Linked DNA regions of Homo sapiens: region 1 is linked to region 2. A link means that fine-mapping ties the variant in region 2 to the expression of a gene that starts in the linked region. Tissue or cell type: fibroblasts. Region 2 holds a variant in brackets; the other region holds the start of a gene. All regions are shown on one strand. Distances are between the middles of the regions. Region 1 holds the start of HOXD4 (homeobox D4). Region 2 overlaps LINC01116 (long intergenic non-protein coding RNA 1116).

Evidence for each region. PIP is the estimated chance that this variant, and not a neighbour inherited with it, causes the effect. A credible set is the group of variants that fine-mapping cannot tell apart.
Region 1: it holds the start of HOXD4, and the variant in region 2 is the best candidate, but not a certain one, in a credible set for the expression of HOXD4 in fibroblasts (GTEx, PIP 0.78).

Annotation. Positions count from the first base shown.
Region 1 is chr2:176,149,928-176,152,836 of GRCh38, forward strand. HOXD4 (homeobox D4) reads left to right here and starts at 1,623. Exons shown (of 2, transcript NM_014621.3): 1 at 1,623-2,139; 2 at 2,681-2,909. The coding sequence starts at 1,707. It overlaps MIR10B (microRNA 10b), which reads left to right and starts at 376; the gene lies at 376-485. It also overlaps a transcript of HOXD3 not described here. RefSeq lists an enhancer at 1,342-2,075.
Region 2 is chr2:176,632,900-176,635,808 of GRCh38, forward strand. It overlaps LINC01116 (long intergenic non-protein coding RNA 1116), which reads right to left. Exons shown (of 5, transcript NR_188023.1): 2 at 134-226. Among named protein-coding and RNA genes, the nearest start is that of LINC01116, 3.3 kb to the right of the region's middle. The variant T/C (reference allele first, on the strand shown) is at 1,512.

The sequences.
Region 1 (2,909 bases), 480 kb before region 2:
TATTCCCCTCTCGCTTCTTTTTCTTCTGCCGCTGAGGGCATTTGTTCCTTTCTGGAAAATACCACTTGGTAAGGAGGAGGGTTATTTGGATCCTGGTGGGGGAGGGTGGTTAATAAAGCCGCCATCCTTGGGATGGATTATTTTTCTTTCTTTCTTTCTTTTTTTCTTTCTTAAGAAGAATATTCTGGTTGTTCGCCTGCTTGGTAACCCTGACCCTGGCAGAAGAATGAGGGAACTCATTGCTTCAAATTGTCGCCAAGCCCATTAGGCTACCTGAACTGTCTCAGAAAGTGCGGGTGGCTGCGTCGAACGGTGGTGGCTCAGAGGAAGAGATTGGGGCCGGCAGCGACCTAGGTACCTCACTCTGGGTGGGACCCAGAGGTTGTAACGTTGTCTATATATACCCTGTAGAACCGAATTTGTGTGGTATCCGTATAGTCACAGATTCGATTCTAGGGGAATATATGGTCGATGCAAAAACTTCACGTTTCTTCGGAATAGCCAGAGACCAAAGTGCGACATGGAGACTAGAAGCAGCCGGCGCTGGTCAGCCGCCTCGTTCTGTTTTATTACCTTGGACTCCAGGAGGATCAGCTGCGCCTGGTGACATAGAGCAGCTTTTCCTCTCCAGAAGCTCCTCACCTTTAAACAGAGTATCCTCTGGGTGCTGAAAAGAAAGAAAGACAGAAAGAGAGAAAGAGAGAGAGAGAGAGAAAGAGAGAATGCAAGCCTAATTGGTTGCATGGATGCAGGGCCAAAGGGCTAGGTTTTGGGGTACTAGGGAGTGAGGTACAAGGCCAGCTTGCCCAGTCCCAGCTCTGCCCTCCAGGAACATGAGGTGCAAAGGTACCCAAATGGGGGCTTGCTTGTATTTGGGGCCTGTGGGAAGAAAGCAAGCTTCAAAGAAGCCCAGTGGGGAGCTCTAGGGTGCATTTTGACAAGGTGGAGGTGCCCTTGCCACCATCCCAGCCCACCCCCAGCTACATGGGCAAGGGCAGCGAGGGCCCCCTGCTATTTTGGCAGGGCCCAGCTTTGGCTGGGAACCCCCGGGCCTGGGCACTGGTAGAAAGCATGGCGGTTACTCATTGCCTAATTTGATTCAAGCTGGCCAGATTCTGGTAACTTTTGGGTGACCCTGATGAAGACAAAGCCAGGACGGCGGCCTTTGTATGGCAGAATCCCTGCTCCCGCCGGCTGCAGGCAGGGCGGGCAGGCAGGAACCCTCCTCGCCTGGGGCACTCTGCCCAACTCAGAGGCGAGTTCACCCACCCACCTTTCATTGCTCTGTACCCCAATAGGAGGATTCATTCTCCCTTGAGCTGTGCCTACTTGGTGTCGGGGGGCGGGGGTTGCATTCAGCTGGGGGTGAGTGGAAGGGCCACGGAAGGTTGGCAAAATCAGTGGCAGACAAAAGCTGGGATTACCTGAGGGGAATGGGGTGCTGGGGACTGGAACTACATTAATATCTGGCAGGGGCTCTCAAATGTGCCATAGCAAGCTACTTGATTACACGTATGTTATTTAGTTAAATTTGTGAAAATTATGAGATGCTCACCAACCCGGTGATAAACTTGCTCCCTCGCCATTGGCTGGCCTGGTCACATGGCTGCCCAACTTTATTCAGTTGACAGCAAGTAGGAGGGCCCTATGGAAGGAGAAAAAAAGACAACACGAGAAAAATTAGTATTTTCTACCTTCTGAAATTAATGGTCATGAGTTCGTATATGGTGAACTCCAAGTATGTGGACCCCAAGTTCCCTCCGTGCGAGGAGTATTTGCAGGGCGGCTACCTAGGCGAGCAGGGCGCCGACTACTACGGCGGCGGCGCGCAGGGCGCAGACTTCCAGCCCCCGGGGCTCTACCCACGGCCCGACTTCGGTGAGCAGCCTTTCGGAGGCAGCGGCCCCGGGCCTGGCTCGGCGCTGCCTGCGCGGGGTCACGGACAAGAGCCAGGCGGCCCCGGCGGTCACTACGCCGCTCCAGGAGAGCCTTGCCCAGCTCCCCCGGCGCCTCCGCCGGCGCCCCTGCCTGGCGCCCGGGCCTACAGTCAGTCCGACCCCAAGCAGCCGCCCTCCGGGACGGCACTCAAGCAGCCGGCCGTGGTCTACCCCTGGATGAAGAAGGTGCACGTGAATTCGGGTAAGGCTAGGGTCCAGTAACCTTTCTGTCCACATCCCAGCCCGTTAGCCTGGGTCCTCTGGAAGGGGGTGCGAGTAGGTGGGGGCGTGTGGAGCTTCCATGGGCGCCGCAATTACTCTCCCCATAAATTTTTATAGCTGAGGGAGCAGGTCAGGACCATGTGGCTGGCTGCTCGGCTGTGGGCGCAAAAGGGGGTGGGGATGGGGGGGTGGGGGAGGACTCCATTTTCAGAGCAGGGGGAAGGCTGTGGAGGAGCGGGGGATTTCCAAAATGCTTGAGGGTTCCGGACCTGGTGGTGGGCCCAGAAGAAGGAGCACATTTGGGGATCCCGCAAGCCTGGGGTATGTGGGTGTGTTTGAGGAGGTGGGTGGGAGTGAGCGTGTGCGCCGGGGAGAGGGCGGGAGGGAGGAAGCAAGCGAGCTTGGGAGCGCGCGGGGAGGGCCGCGGGCCTCGGGGCGCGCCAGGAAGTGAGCGGCGGAGGCGAGGGGCCTAACTAGTGGCCGGGCGCTGACCTGCCTGTCCTGTCTGTTTTGTCTCGCAGTGAACCCCAACTACACCGGTGGGGAACCCAAGCGGTCCCGAACGGCCTACACCCGGCAGCAAGTCCTAGAACTGGAAAAAGAATTTCATTTTAACAGGTATCTGACAAGGCGCCGTCGGATTGAAATCGCTCACACCCTGTGTCTGTCGGAGCGCCAGATCAAGATCTGGTTCCAGAACCGGAGGATGAAGTGGAAAAAAGATCATAAGCTGCCCAACACTAAAGGCAG
Region 2 (2,909 bases):
TTGGTGGATGTGGTAAAGGCAGACAAGTTTATTAAAATATATGCAAATTGCTTTCATTTGGAGGTGTGTTATAGTTTACAAAGAGCTTTGGCATGCACATGTTGTATCATTTGGTAAAAATTAGCATACCCACCATTCTTAGAAGCAATTCAGTTGTCTTCTAATACACTGCTCATTTGTGAATATTTTCTTTTCGAACAGGCAGATTTTCACTTGAAATATTGAACTGTAAGATTCACATCATAAGGGGCGATAAAGTCATATGCATTCTTAAATAAAAATAATAGCACATTCTTAAAAGGACATTTGTTTGTTTATTACTTAAATGGGTTTCAGCCACTAGCGTACATTTGGCACCAGTTGCTGTGTTTTGCTCTAGCCTGAGACTCTAATGCCTGAGCACTAGTTACTCCGGTTCTAAAAAGCTATGAATTTTGATATATAGCCTACGTTATGAAAGCTTACCTCTTTATGGCTTCAACCAGGTGAGTGTATGGCTCCGGGCTTTTCTTTTCTTTTTTTTTTTTTTTTTTTGAGACGGAGTCTCGCTCTGTCGCCCAGGCTGGAGTGCAGTGGCGGGATCTCGGCTCACTGCAAGCTCCGCCTCCCGGGTTCACGCCATTCTCCTGCCTCAGCCTCCCAAGGAGCTGGGACTACAGGCGCCCGCCACTACGCCCGGCTAATTTTTTGTATTTTTAGTAGAGACGGGGTTTCACCGTTTTAGCCGGGATGGTCTCGATCTCCTGACCTCGTGATCCGCCCGCCTCGGCCTCCCAAAGTGCTGGGATTACAGGCGTGAGCCACCGCGCCCGGCCCGGGCTTTTCTTTTAGGCTCTTTGACCTAGAGAAATGAAGCTTGGAACAGGGGATCTGCAGGCACTAACTTGTAGAGGAGAGTCCCAGAGGTGCAGGTATCATGCATTCAGTGAGCTGGGAAACTCTAGCCCGGGAACATGGAGTCACTAAGTCTTTCAATGTAGGAAAGGAGCCCCAACTGTTAAGGCAGCTAGCCAAGCAGGTGACAAACTGTTGCACTTCAAAGACAGGAAATCCCTTCAAACGTTAAATTGTAAGGACACAAAATGACCTACATTCAGGAAAATGGGGAGTCAGTAATTCCACATCAGGCTTGTTCCAGTTTATTGAAGCATGTCTGGTGGATATTAACTGGTCCTAAGGATCCCACTCTAAGTGAATGGCAGCCTTTTCCACCAGAAACCCACATTTTCAACATCTTATTTTTAAAAAGTCATTCGAGTTCACATCAGATTGAAGTTATTATGTAAGGACTCTCTCTGGGACAGTTTTCAACCCTAAAATTAGTCTAGTTTAAAATTACAATTACTCAGAATGTTTAAGAAATCTATGAACATGTTTAAAAAATCTTCTGAACATCAAAACTAAGAGAAGGCATCAGTCTACAGTGCAGTCTTAGAAAACAACTGATGGATTGCTTAAAATTGGAAAGACAGCCTAGAAGTGCCACAATATCAAGGCATAGGACTTCCTAG[T/C]AGTTTTACCCAGCTCAGAAGGCAAAGTCTAGATGGATTTCCTGCCAATCCCCAAAACTACCTAGGGCTGTGGATGCAGCAGTTTGAAACATGTGTCAATGCTAAATACTTGTCCAACTGGCTTGAAATAAAGGGAGGGCTGGGGGTGGGGATGGTTGAAGGGGGCAGAGAAATGGCATATGCTTTTCTCAAGGCAGGGCCTCTGTCCCCCAGCACTCGAAGAATTACTGAACAAATGTGTTAAGTGGGAAGGAAATGGATGGGTAAAAGCTAACTTCATCTCAGCACAAAAGAAGTTGTCCTTCCATGCTTACATTTTCAAAATGCAAAAATCCAAAAAGCATCGATATTGGAAAATTCTTGGGAAACTGAAAAGCTTAACCATATTCCATAATTTTATTAATTTAAGACCTTCCAAGCAGGGAGGTCAAACTTAACTCTGCTTCCAGCTTACAAAGCACGTCAACTTATTTTGTATGTATAGCTATAAACTGTTTGCAAGTTTCCTCAGTCAGGTACTCGGGATGAATTATGAATGGAATTAGCCAGCCTGACTTGGAATTTCCTCACTTTTACTGGTCTTTAAACAAGATTTTTATACATTCATATGTAATCGATGGAACCAACACATGAAATGGCCCTTCACATAAAACACTCTCTTTTAAAGTGATTTTGCAGTTAAGGAAACCTAAATATGAACTTCTGATGTGGAAAAGGTAGTTTTTATATGCTATTTAGAAACTGATCTGAAAAACTGATGAGCTGACCACAAGATTTCTGTCAGAAACTGAAATTAGGATTATATTTTAAAATACAATTGTAAATGCTTGCTTTCTTTTATAAAACCAATCTGCTTCTCATATTCCTAGCCTTAGTCACACTGAAAATACATAAATTTGGTATTTGGTTATTGAGTTTTGAAGTTGCAAGGCAGGATAATTTAGATATTCATAAATACAGAGCATAAGAAAATCCTTCCTGAGTGCAAAACTATCTTTAAAATAATCATCCAAAGGAGTGAATGCCACACCTCCTGATTTAATTTTGGCTATTAGCTATTCATTCCTTAATATACATTCTTCCACATAAAACTTGCACTGTCTTAAAACTTGCCTACAAACTGGCATGTCCAAATTGTGTGCATAAAAAATAAGATGAAGATCGATGCCAAGTTTTCAAGAAAGAAATGAATTTGGATTGTTTATTACACCAACAAGACACATGTTCAAATTTATCCCCTGTATATAAAAAGATTAGTATAAAATATTTCTCAATTGTTTATGCAGAAAGTAGTAGGGAACAAATTCCAATAATTTTTATCACATAGCTGATATAGCTAAATATTTGGAACCTTTAAAAGAAAAGTGCTAATTAAAATACATATAAATTTTTCAAAGT